2 separate regions of the Homo sapiens genome follow, and region 1 is linked to region 2. A link means that fine-mapping ties the variant in region 2 to the expression of a gene that starts in the linked region. Tissue or cell type: monocytes after Pam3CSK4. Region 2 holds a variant in brackets; the other region holds the start of a gene. All regions are shown on one strand. Distances are from middle to middle.

Region 1 (5,095 bases), 39 kb before region 2:
AGGACCTGCCCGGGGTAGAGAGGGCATCTCTCTGTTGCCTGCATCTCGGGCTGGAGAATAGGCAACGGCAAATCTGTGGAAAGGATGGATGAAGGTCAGGTAAGAGCTGGGAGGCTGGGTGCTCTGGTTCCTGAAAACACTGGAGATGGGGCTCGGAGGAAAAGAAGAGGCCTGGAGGTGGCCAGGCGTGGTGGCTCACGCCTGGAATCCCAGCACTTGGGGAGGCCGCAGCAGGTGGATCACTTGAGCTCAGGAATTTAAGACCAGCCTGGGCAACACAGCAGCACCCCATCTCTACAAAATATACAAAAATTAGTTGGGTGTGGTGGCTGTGGTCCTAGCTACTCTGGAGGCTGAGACGGGAGGACTGCTTGAGCCCAGGAGGTTGCCATGAGCCAAGATCATACCACTGCACTCTAGCCTGGGTGACAGAGGGAGACCTTGTACAAAACAAAAACAAAAAACAAACAAAAGGCCTAGAGGCTGGCAAAACGGAGGCCCCCTACCCTGGGAATGGAGACTAGAAAAGGGTGAGGCTGCCAAGAGCATTTTGGGCATCCCGCCCAGCTGAGATGCTGGCACAGAACCATGGACAGGGAAAGCTGAGCAGGGAAAGTTTCCTGGTAACTGGGGTCAGGGGAGGCAGCACAGTGGCCAGAGTTGCAGGGAGGAAAGGTTGTGGCCCCGGGGTGAGACAGACAGAAAGGAGGGTGGGGAGCACCTGCCCTCTACAGGAAGCAGTCCGGTCGCCCTCACCGAGCCAGAGGGAGCAGACTCATCAAGACTTTGTGTCTCAGGAGGTCCCGATGCAGCTCCTGAAAATGACGGTATTTCTTCTTGGTTGTCCAGGAAAAGTCGCCGTGAGTCAAGCGGACAGAATACAGAGTGCAGGTTCCCACCTAGGGGTATGAGGAACTGAATGGATGTCCCCTGCGTGGGTCCCCGCCTCCCCACTCTGGCCAGCCCTCCTTTTGCCCCTTCCCTGGGGCCAGCCCAGCCACCTTGGATCCATTCCGGGCCGCCCTCCCTTTCCCCCTCCCTGGGGCCAGTCTGGCCACCTTGGATCCGCTGGTATATCTTTCGGTGCCCACCACCTGGGCTGTGACAGGGACCCCAGGTGCGAACACCAAGGGGTGCACTTTCAGAGACTGAAGCTCATAGATGGCCAGAAACGGGTGCATCCGGTCGGCTGGGAGGAAAGAAAGTCGAGGAGTGTAGACCACAACAGGCCCCAGCCCCCTGGCTCCCGAACGCCTCTCCTCCCTGAGGGCCATCCATCTTCCCTGTGTACCTGGGTCCTCTCCCTCCTTCAGGGTGTCCACCTCATCGGACTCCATCTGGAGCTGGCTGGAGTCCAGTTCGTCCCCAGTGGGGAAGAGGCTCTCAGGGGTCGCCGTCATCCTAGGAACATTGGGAAGCCTCAGGGAGGCGAGCTGTCCTGCAGAACCCGCCCCCCATCCTAACTCCCGCAGGTCCTCCATCTCTTCCAGATCCTCCTCTTCCCCCACGGCCTCCTGACCGCCCGCGGATGACGCCTGACCAGTTTGCAACGCCCCACCGACCCCTTCGAGCCCCCATCCCCTACCTTAGTCCTTCATCCACAATCCCAGTCCCGCCCCCCGCCCCCCGCCCCGTCCCGTAACCAGAGCCCCGGGGAACACCCAGCCAGGCCCGGAAGGCTCCGACCTGGGGCGGCGCAGCAGCTGCGCGGGGAAGCGGCCCTGGGTGGTCCGGAGAGCGCGCGGCTACGGGGCTCACGCCAGGCCAGGCGGGCCGGGGGCAGGGGTCCAGGCGGGAATGAGGAAGTTACGCGATCCCAGCCGGGGGTAGAAATCCCGAAATCTGAGCGTGCGACTGAGTCTGGAGGCCCCGCAGCCCGAGCCCGTTCCGTCCCCGCCCGATTTCCGAGACCCGGGACCCCCGCGCGCCCCTTCCCGGCCCCCTCACCCTGGCAGACGGAGCCAGCGCCCGCGGGGGTTCCGGAGCCAAGAGAGCAGACCGGAGCTGCAGCCGGAGCCCACGCCCCGGCCGAGGCGGGGCCGGCCGAGGCGGGGCCGGGGCTCAGGGCCTGCCCTCGGGGGCGGGGCGGCCCCCGGCCTCACCTCCGCGGGATTCTCGTCTGTCCTGTCCCGCCCCCGCTGCCCTCGGCCCGCCCCGCCGCCCAGTGCGCCACCGAGAGCCCCGGGCAGGGGGCCGCCCTGTGCCCTGCAGGGCCGCGGGGCCGCGTAGCTCTCTCGGTGCGGCGGGTAAGTGCTGCCCGGCGTCGGGGCGTCCCGCGCCGTCGGTCCCAGCGTGCCCGGCCGCTGCCTCCCGGGGCACCCCGCGCTGCGCGCATCCCTCGGGCTCGGCGCCCGCCCCGGGCCCCTCCAGCCGCGGGCGCTGCCTCGGCGCCCGGGGGACGCGCCTCCGCTGCGGGAGCTGCCGGTAGGTGCCCCGCTCCCGGACCCGCTGCGAGCCACATTTGGCCTAGCCCAGATAGCGTTTGTACCTGGAAGGAATGAGGGCGTAAAAGGCCTGAGGGGTGGTGGCTACAAACCCATTAGTGTATGAAAGCGGGCATTCTTTCATTCATTCACCAAACATTTATTGCGCGCTTACTCCGTGCCAGAAATTGAGAGTATGGTAGTAAATAAGATGGTTAGAGAGCCTGCTCAGCTGGAATTGGCAGTCTAGGGGGAAATAAAATTTTTTCGGGTATTAAAATACAAGATATTTCAATCTTTTTTAAAAAGCAGATTTATTTTTCTCTTTTGATATACATGTGGGTTTCTAGTTTTGCCCATTGTTTTAGCTCCTGTAAACATTCCTGTAAGTTTGCGTGGATAGTTTTCCTTTATCTTGGGTAACTAGGGAGTGGAGTTGTTCGATCATATCAGTGTGTGTTTAACTTATAAGAAACTGCCAAACGATTTTTTTCTAAATGGTTTTTCCATTCTAGATTTCCAAAATCAGTGTATGGTGGTTCCAGTTATTCCATGGCATGGCCAACGTTGGATATTGTCAGTCTTTAGCGTTGGCCATTTAATGGGTGTTGTGGGCACATCATTGCAATTTGATTTGCATTTGTCTGGAGATCAATGATATTGACCATGTTTCATGTGCTGATTGGCCATTTGTATGTCTTCTTTTATAAAGTGCCTATTCAGTCTTTTGCTATTTTTTATTTATTTTTATTTTTATTTTTATGAGACGGAGTCTCGCTCTTTTTTTTTCTTTTTTTGAGATGGAGTCTTGCTGTGTTGCCCAGGCTGGAGTGCAGTGGCGCGATCTCGGCTCACTGCAAGCTCCGCCTCCCAGGTTCACGCCATTCTCCTGCCTCAGCCTCCTGAGTAGCTGGGACTACAGGCGTCCGCCACCACGCCCAGCTAATTTTTTTTGTATTTTTAGTAGAAACGGGGTCTCACCGTGTTATCCAGGATGGTCTCGATCTCTTGACCTTGTGATCCGCCCTCCTCGGCCTTCCAAAGTACTGGGATTACAGGCGTGAGCCACCGCGCCCGGCCAGAGTCTCGCTCTTGTTGCCCATGCTGGACTGCAGTGGCGTGATCTCGGCTCACTGCAACCTCCCCCTTCCAGGTTCAAGGGATTTCCGGCTAATTTTTGTATTTTTAGTAGAGACGGGGTTTCACCATGTTGGCCGGGCTGGTCTCAAACTCCAGACCTCAAGTGATCCGCCCTCCTCAGCCTCCCAAAGTGCTGGGATTACAGGCGTGAGCCACCGTTCCCGGCCTTTTGCTAATTTTTTTTTTTGAGACAGAGTTTCGCTGTTATTGCCCAGGCTGGAGTGCAATGGCGCGATCTCGGCTCACTGCAACCTCCGCCTCCCGGGTTCTCTCCTGCCTCAGCCTCCTGAGTAGCTGGGATTACAGGCACCTGCCACCACGCCTAGCTAATTTTTTGTATTTTTAGTAGAGACGGGGTTCCTCCATGTTGGTCAGGCTGGCGTCGAACTCCTGACCTCAAATGATCCGCCCTCCTTGGCCTAAAGTGCTGGGATTACAGGCGTGAGCCACCGCACCCGGTCTTAAACTTATAAAACAGGCAAAAACAACCTATAGTGATGGAAATCAGATCAGTAGTTGCTTGTGGCAGGGTGTAGGGAAAAGATTGCCTGTAAAGGGACACGTGAGGGAACATTCCAGGATGATAAGAATGCCCTGTATTTTGATAGGAGTGGTGATTGCATAGGAGCATACACTTGGTAATACTCATGGAACTGTACGTTAAGATGTGTGCATTACATTGTATGTGCATTTTTGCTTCAATAAAGTTCATTGAAAGAAAAAGAAGGCGGGGCGCGGTGGCTCACACCTGTAATCCCAGCACTTTGGGAGGCCGAGGCGGGCAGATCACGAGGTCAGGAGATCGAGACCATCTTGGCTAACATGGTGAACCCCGTCTCTACTAAAAATACAAAAAATTAGCTGAGTGTGGTGATGCGTACTACTCGGGAGGCTGAGGCAGGAGAATCATTTGAACCAGGGAGTCAGAAATTGCAGTGAGCCGGGACAGTGCCACTACACTCCGGCCTGGTGACAGAGTGAGACTGTCTCAAAAAAAAAAAAAAAAGAAAGAAACATTTCTGTGTAACTCAGGCAGTACCCTGTAATCAGCAACCTAACACTCCCCACGTTGTGGCACCCTCAGGGAATGATGAAACAGCACTTGTGGCTGGGCGCAGTGGCTCACGCTTGGAATCCCAGCACTTTGCGAGGCTGAGGAGGGCAGATCACGAGGTCACGATATCGAGACCATCCTGGCTAACACAGGGAAACCCTGTCTCTATTAAAAATACAAAAAATTAGCCAGGCGTGGTGGCGGGCACCTGTAGTCCCAGCTACTTGGGAGGCTGAGGCAGGAGAATGGCGTGAACCCGGGAGGCGGAGGTTGCAGTGAGCTGAGATCGTGCCACTGCACTCCAGCCTGGGCAACAGAGCGAGACTCCATCTCAAAAAAAAAAAAAAGAAAAAAGAAAAAAAACACAGCACTTCCACAGCTTTACTTAAGAGCACTTAGAGTCCTTGGCTAGGATGCTCTTGACTAGATGCTCCCAGCCTTGGCTCTGGCCACCCCAAACTGTCTGAGGGCATCGATG
Region 2 (8,052 bases):
AGGTGGGGGCTATGGACACATTACCCTGGGTTAGTGCCTTCCTGTTTTTTCTGCACAGCTCCACAGCCCCTCTGTTGGTTCCATACCTGCTTTGCAACTTAGCCAAGCCCCTTCATGTCTCTTAAGTCTCAGTTGCCACTTGTGTCTGGGCACGGTGGCTCACACCTGTAATCCCAGCACTTTGGGAGGCCGAGGAGGGTGGATCACCTGAGGTCAGGAGTTTGAGACCAGCCTGGCCAACGTGGTGAAACCCCGTCACTACTAAAAATGCAAAAGTTATCTGTGCATGGTGGCGGGCACCTGTAATCCCAGCTATTCGAGAGGCTGAAGCAGGAGGATCACTTGAACCTGGAAGGTGGAGGTTGCAGTGAGCTGAGATTGTGCCATTGCACTCCAGCCTGGGTGACAAGAGTGAAACTCTGTCTCGAAAAATAAATAAATAAGTAAATAAAGTGACAAGAATGAAACTCTGTCTCAAAAAGTAAATAAATAAATAAATAAATAAATAGATAAATAAATAAGTGATGCCACTTGCCTTGTGGGCTACTTGTGAGGATTAAATGGGACAACCTGAGAAGTATTTTGTAAACTAGGAAGCACAGAGCAGATGTGTGGTGGCCTCTTCGTTTCTGCCAGCCTCTCAGGCAGCATTCTTCCCAGGGAGAAATTAAAGAGGTGATTGTGGGCTCTTATTGTCCTTGCATTTCGTCTTCCTGGTATTTGATTATTGATGTCTCCTCCTCTTGAGGCCACTGCCTGTCTCTCAGGGTGGGCTCGGGACCTAGGCCTCATTGATGAGAGCGTTCTATCCTGCTAGCCTCGGTGTTTGATTTAGCAACAGCCATGCGATCTGAGCCAACTCTGTGAGAATCAGCTTCTGCCATTTTTCCATTCTGAGGTCAAAGAAGTTCTGTTTTTGTTGGGGTGCTGCAGTTTCCTTGATAACTTCTTTTTTTTTTGAGACGGAGTCTCACTCTGCCGCCCAGGCTGGAGAGCAGTGGCGTGATCTTGGCTCACTGCAACCTCCGCCTCCTGGGTTCAAGCGATTCTCCTGCCTCAGCCTCCCAAGTAGCTGGGATTACAGGCGCCCACCACCACACCCAGCTAATTTTTGTATTTTTAGTAGAGACGGGGTTTCACCATGTTGGCCAGGCTGGTCTCAAACTCCTCACCTCAAATGATCCACCTGCCTCAGCCTCCCAAAGTGCTGGGATTACAAGCATGAGCCAAGCCACCCAGTCGACTTCTTTTTTTTTTAATTAAAAAAATGTTTTTGAGACCAGGGTCTCCCTTTGTTGCCCAGGCTGGTGTGGAGTGGATCATGGCTCCCTGCAGCCCTGACCACCTGGGCTCAAGTGATCCTCCCACCTCAGCCTCCCGAGTAGCTAGGACTATAGGTGTGTGCCACCACACCTGGCTAATGGTTTTTTGTTGTTTTTTTTTTGAGATGGAGTCTTGCTCTGTCACCCAGGCTGGAGTTTAGTGGTGTGATCTCGGCTCACTGCAACCTCTGCCTCCTGGGTCTCAGAAGCAAACAGGAGAGTGAAGGCCCCCACAGAATGAGCCCTAGCTCAAGTAGGATGTGGGAGTGCCATGAAGAGATGAGGGTAGCAGGAAGGGCTGCAGGGCTTCAGAGGGTATGCAATGAGGCTGTCACCTGGAAAGTGTCACCAGCCAGTGGCCCCTGATGCAGCCCCTCCTTGCGGCCCACTCAGACCACTACAGAAATGTGGAAAATGGAGAAAAGCCAGAATCTCTGCTATTTATAAGACAGAGGAACTGGATTGAGAAAAATACATGGAGAATTTACCTCTTGAATCAGAGGATGCCTGAAAAAGAAAATACTTTGAACCTCCCCAACTATTTGTCTCTGACTCATAGGTAATTATGATGACTGATACATTTGGTTTTGCTTCTGTTGGCATGTTTAATGCTTTAAACAACATTTCCATATTGCTTCTGATGTTTTCTGTTCCTCTTCTTTTTTGTTTTTTGAGACAGAGTTTTGCTCTTGTTGCCCAGGCTGGAGTGCAGTGGTGCGATCATGGCTCACTGCAACCTCCACCTCCCAAGTTCAAGCAATTCTCCTGCCTCAGCCTCCCGAGTAGCTGGGATTATAGGCATGCGACACCACGCCCAGCTAATTTTGTATTTTTAGTAGAGACGGGGTTTCTCCATGTTGGCCAGGCTAGTCTCGAACTCCCGACCTCAGATGATCCCCGCCTCGGCCTCCGAAAACGCTGGGATTACAGGCATGAACCACTGCGCCCAGCCTCTGTCCCTTTTCTTTAAAGATTTTACATTATCCTTTTTTTTTTTTTTTTGAGACAGGGTCTCTGTCACTCAGACTAGAGTGCCATGGTAAGATAATCATGGCTCGCTGCAGCTATGACCTCCTAGCTCAAGCTGTCTTCCCACTTCAGCTTCCTTAGTAGCCAGGATTACAGGCCCACACCACCACACTCAACTAATTTAAAAAATTTCTTTTGGCCGGGCGCAGTAGCTCACGCCTGTAATCCCAGCACTTTGGGAGGACAAGGTGGGCAGATCATGAGGTCAGGAGATCGAGACCATCCTGGCTACCGTGGTGAAACCCTGTCTCTACTAAAAATACAAAAAAAATTAGCTGGGTGTGGTGGCAGGCACCTGTAATCCCAGCTAGTCGGGAGGCTGAGGCAGGAGAATTGCTTGAACCCGGGAGATGGAGGTTGCAGTGAGCCGAGATTGCACCACTGGACTCCAGCCTGGGTGACAGAGGAAGACTCCATCTAGAAAAAAAAAAAAAAGATACAAGGAAAAGGGTCACATTGGATCCCACCCTAGATCACCTGACCCCCAGCCAACTCCTATGTGTGTATCAGTGAAATAAATGCTTATATTTATTTGACACTAAGACTTCGTCGAGGGGGATGGTTTGTTGCCCAGTAACAAGTTCCTAACACAGACCCCCTTATC[T/C]AGGCCAGGGCTGGTTGATTGAGGAACAAGTAGCTGACCCAAAGGCAGACATGTAGCCAGCGACCTGTGAGGTCTCTCGAGGTGAGAACTCCATCCAACAGAGGTACACTGACTGGATAATGACCAATCCACCGACTGGATCTTCATGATTGGGAAATGTGTCTGTGAGACAAGCTGAGACAGTCATCAGAGAGTGGGGTGGCTTCAAACTGAGAGTTGTATGCAAGAAAGAAGCAATCAAAAGCCAGAGGCAACTGACACCAGAAATAAGCAGAAGTCACAGCAAGAGAAGTGTATGGAGAATAGTTACTCTGAAACAGCGCCAGAGGGAGAAGCACAGGCACTGGAAAACTCTGGTTCCTCAGGAGGTGGCCGATGAGAGGTTGTCACCAGCACTAATGTTGAACTACCAGAGCAACTGTCATATCCCGAATAGTGGCCCTTCCAACCGTGGACCTGAAGAGGGGATTCAGCCATTGATCTGATGGACAGAGAGCAGGGCCAAGAGCTGGCCACCTATTTGTCTACAAGTTGCTCAAGCTGATTCTGAGAGATGGTGCCTCTTTTTTATTTTTTTTTAAACAGAGTTTCACTCTTATTGCCCAGGCTGCAGTGCAGTGGCGTGATCTCGGCTCACCGCCACCTCCGCCTCCCGGGTTCAGGAGACTCAAGTAGTTGGGATTACAGGTGCCCGCCACCACGCTTGGCTCATTTTTGTATTTTTTGTGGAGATGAAGACAGGGTTTCTCCATGTTGGCCAGGCTGCTCTCGAACTCCTGATCTCAGGTGATCCACCCACCTCGGTCTCCCAAAATGCTGGGATTACAGGTGTGAGCCACTGCGGCCAGCCAAATGGTGTCTGTTTTGAGGATGAATAAAGAGAAAAAAAATAGTTGTGTGGGTGGGGTGGTCCACAGGCATTCATTACATTATTTTTATACAATTCTGGATGAATGAAATAATGTTAATAATGTTAACAAAACATTATAGGGATTCTGAAAAATTTTCTCAAAACCAGGGAAGGGCAAATCAACCTGAAGACTGAAAGAAACAGAATCCTCTGGAGGAACATTTACTATAGGATTTGGAAGAGATTTCCAGGAAGATTTTTGATGACATCACTAGAATTCTCCTGGAACTAGGAACAGAATAACTTAAGAAAGAAAAGGCTGGCCGGGCGCGGTGGCTCACGCCTGTAATCCCAGCACTTTGGGAGGCCAAGCTCGGTGAATCACCTGAGGTCAGGAGTTTGAGACCAGCCTGGCCAACATGGCGAAACCCCATCTTCACAAAAAATACAAAAATTAGACAAGTGTGATGGCAGGCACCTGTAATCCCAGCTACTCAGGAGGCTGAGGCAGGAGAATCGCTTGAACCCGGGAGGTGGGGGTTGCAGTGAGCCGAGATCGCACCATTGCACCCCAGTATGGGCAACAGAGCAAGACTCCATCTCAAAAAAAAAAAAAAAAAAAAGGTCCAGGCTCAGTGGGTCACGCTTGTAATCCCAGCACTTTGGGAGGCCGAGGCGGGCAGATCACCTGAGGTCAGGAATTCGAGACCAGCCTGACCAACATGGGGAAACCCCGTCTCTACTAAAAATACAAAAATTAGCTGGGCATGGTGGCGGGTGCCTGTAATCCCCGCTACTCAGGAGGTTTAGGCAGGAGAATCGCTTGAACCCGGGAGGTGGAGATTGCAGTGAGCCAAGATCACGCCATTGCGCTTCAGCCTGGGTGACAGAGTGAGACTCTGGCTCAAAAAAAAAAAAAAAAAAATTCAGGAAACTGGCTTCTCCTAAGAACAAGAATAGAACTGGTGGAAGTGACACCACAGTTAAAACATCTGCACTAGGAGAAGACGTCACTGAGCGCAGATAGATCCACTCAGGTCAGTGGGTTGAAAGTTATACTGCACGGCAGGTAAAATATTAAAAGTCAGCTGACCATAGATTCATCCTGACAAAATATCTGAATTAAAGGATACATCTAGGCAGAATTTAAAAAGGCTACTTAGAAAGAAACAATAGTTGGTGTGGCCAGAGTCTTCTCTGAAATACTGAATGTCAGAGGACAAAGGAGTAAGGCAGCTGTGTCCACCAAAAAAGGTAGAACTATCATATACATGTCTAAGTTGCATTTTGTATGTTAAGGGCAACACAATTGCATTTCTGAGAATGTTTGGATTTCAAAATAACACTTTGGCTCCTTTTTTTTAGAGAAATTGTGTTGACTCACCAAGAGATGAAGTAAAATAAAAACCCCAAAATGGGGAAGTCTTGACGTAAGTCTAAATAAATTTCATATATCTGGTTACAAAACTGGATGCACATTTTGGAAAAAAATATTTTTCTTCTCTTTTGTTTTGAGTCAGAGTCTTGCTCTGTCATGCAGGCTGGAGTGCAGTGGCGTCATCTTGACTCTGCAACCTCAGCCTTCTGAGTTCAAGCGATTCTCCTGCCTTAGCCCCCCAAGTAGCTGGGATTACAAGCATGGGCCACCAGGCCTGGCTAATTTTTATATTTTTAGTAGAGACTAAGTTTCACCATGTTGGAGGGTGGTCTTGAACTCCTGACCTCAAGTGATCCACCTGTCTTGGCCTCCCAAAGTGCTGGGATTACAGGTATGAGCCACCACAACCCGGCCAGAGCCATTGTGCCCAGTCTCATTTTTTTTTAAAGACAGTGTCTCACTCTGTTGTCCAGACTGGTGTGCAGTGGCATGATCTTGGCTCACTGCAAACTCTATCTCCTGGGCTCAAGTGATCGTCCTGCCTCAGCCTGCCAAGTAACTGGGACTACAGATGTTCACCACCCACCATGCTTGTCTAATCTTTTTGTGTGTATATATGTAAATATATATATATATATTTTTTTTGAGACAGAGTTTCACTCTTGTTGCCCAGGCTGGAGTGCAATGGCGCAATCTCAGCTTACTGCAACTTCTGCCTCCCAGGTTCAAGCGATTCTCCTGCCTCAGCCTCCCTAGTAGCTAGGATTACAGGCATGTGCCACCACGCCCGGCTAATTTTGTATTTTTAGTAGAGACAGGGTTTCTCCATGTTGGTCAGGCTGGTCTCAAACTCCCGACCTCAGGTGATCCGCCCACTTCGGCCTCCGAAAGTGCTGGGATTACAAGTGTGAGCCACCGAGCCCAGCCATCATTTTGTATTTTTTGTAGAAATGGGGTTTCATTTTGTTGCCCAAGTGGTCTTGAACTCCTGGGCTCAAGAAATCTGCACACATAGGCTTCCCAAAGTGTTGGGATTACAGGCGTGAGCCACTGCACCTAGCCCCGTAAAAATTTCTTTTGAAGTGGCCGGGCGTGGTGGCTCACGCCTGTAATCCCAGCACTTTGGGAGGCCGAGGTAGGCGGCTCACCTGAGGTCGGGAGTTTGAGACCAGCCGGACCCACATGGAGAAACCCCATCTCTACTAAAAATACAAAATTAGCTGGACTTGGTAGCGCATGCCTGTAATCCCAGCTACTTGGGAAGGCTGAGGCAGGAGAATCGCTTGAACCTGGGAGGTGGAGATTGCAGTGAGCCAAGATCGCGCCATTGCACTCCAGCCTGGGCAAGAGCAAAACTCTGTCTCAAAAAAAAAAAAAAAAAAAAAAATTCTTTTAAAGGGCAGCTGTATAATGTAAATTCTAAAAATGATATTAATACTATTAAATATGTCATTATTGCTTGCCATACTCTGGGTCCATTGTAAGGAACTATACCAGGTAACAGAAAACCCAACTCTATTGCAACAAAAAGGGAATTTATTGGTTCAAGCAATCAAAACATCCAGTAGGACTGAAGTAGGACTAACTGCAGGTGCAGTTTGGTCCAGAAGTTCAGGATGTCATCAGTGTTCTTGTTTCTCTGCCATTCTCTCTGCTGTTCCTTTTTTTGGCTTTGACTTCCTCCTTAAGTGGGATCTTCCTCCTGACAGTAGTATTAGCTGCAGCAGTTCAGACCTTATGTCTTTACACCCTACCACCAGGAGGAAGAGAATCTCCTCGCATAGCTTTCCCTGAGTAGAGAGGAAGTTTCTTTCCCATTTACCCCAGAAAATTTCTCCTTGGTGCAGACTGGGTTCTATGTCTGTCCCTTACACGGATCACTGTGGCCAGAGGGTAGAACATGCTGTATGAGTCTGTTCTCACGCTGCTAATAAAGACATACCCGAGACTGGTACTTTATAGAGGAAAGAGGTTTAATTGACTCACAGTTTAGCATGGCTGGGGAGGCCTTAGGAAACTTACAATCATGGCGGAAGGGGAAGCAAACATGTCCTTCTTCACATGGAGGCATTCCAGCACAGGGGGTGTTGTCAATTCTGTCTAAGCCACCAGGCTGGGAAATTAAGGGCAGTATTAGGAAGGAGGAAAGACAGAATGAATGATGGGGAGGCATCCAGCGAATATCCTCTCCAGGGAATCTGTCTAAACTCTGTGGCTCCGTACTCACTGCCCATAGCTGAGTAGCACATGCTTGACCTAGTATGTGACAGAGATAGTGAGTTAGTCCCAGTCTTCTGCTTTTATTATAGTAGCAGACTTTGTAGTCTGCTGCTAAAGGCACATGGCTGCTAAGCTAGAGACTATATTTTCGGCCAAGCCCGGTGGCTCACGCCTGTAATCCCAGCACTTCGGGAGGCTGAGGCGGGTGGATCACCTGAGGTCAGGAGTTTGAGACCAGCCTGGCCAACATGGTGAAACCTCATCTCTACTAAAAATACAAAAATTAGCCAGGCGTGGTGTCTCACGTCTGTAATCCCAGCACTTTGGGAGGCCAAGGCAGGTGGATCACCTGAGGTTGGGAGTTTGAGGCCAGCCTGACCAATATGGAGAAACCCCATCTCTATAAAAATACAAAATTAGCCGGGCGTAGTGGCACATGCCTGTAATCCCAGCTACTCCGGAGGCTGAGGCAGGAGAATCGCTTGAACCTGGGAGGCGGAGGTTGCAATGAGCTGAGATCATGCCACTGCATGCACTCTAGCCTGGGCGACAGAGCGAGACCCCGTGTCAAAACAACAACAACAACAAAAAAACCCTATTTTTTCTAACTTCTTTTGTAGCTGTGGCCATGCGTTGTCACATAGTTATG

Which allele goes with the higher level. Alleles are on the strand shown, and positions count from the first base shown. SD is a standard deviation of normalised expression in the study named.
As copies of T replace C in region 2, the expression in monocytes after Pam3CSK4 of the gene that starts at base 2,021 in region 1 goes down (large effect, 0.81 SD a copy in Quach 2016).

What was found. PIP is the estimated chance that this variant, and not a neighbour inherited with it, causes the effect.
Region 1: PLD2 starts here. The variant in region 2 is fine-mapped to the expression of PLD2 in monocytes after Pam3CSK4 (Quach 2016, PIP 0.95).

The regions. Positions count from the first base shown.
Region 1 is chr17:4,804,078-4,809,172 of GRCh38, reverse strand. PLD2 (phospholipase D2) reads right to left here and starts at 2,021. Exons shown (of 25, transcript NM_002663.5): 1 at 1,948-2,021; 2 at 1,292-1,401; 3 at 1,059-1,189; 4 at 757-899; 5 at 1-73. The coding sequence starts at 1,400. It also overlaps a transcript of C17orf114 not described here. RefSeq lists an enhancer at 86-1,285 and a silencer at 1,681-2,470.
Region 2 is chr17:4,763,650-4,771,701 of GRCh38, reverse strand. No RefSeq gene overlaps it. Among named protein-coding and RNA genes, the nearest start is that of TM4SF5, 4.2 kb to the left of the region's middle. RefSeq lists a silencer at 7,476-7,638. The variant T/C (reference allele first, on the strand shown) is at 2,956.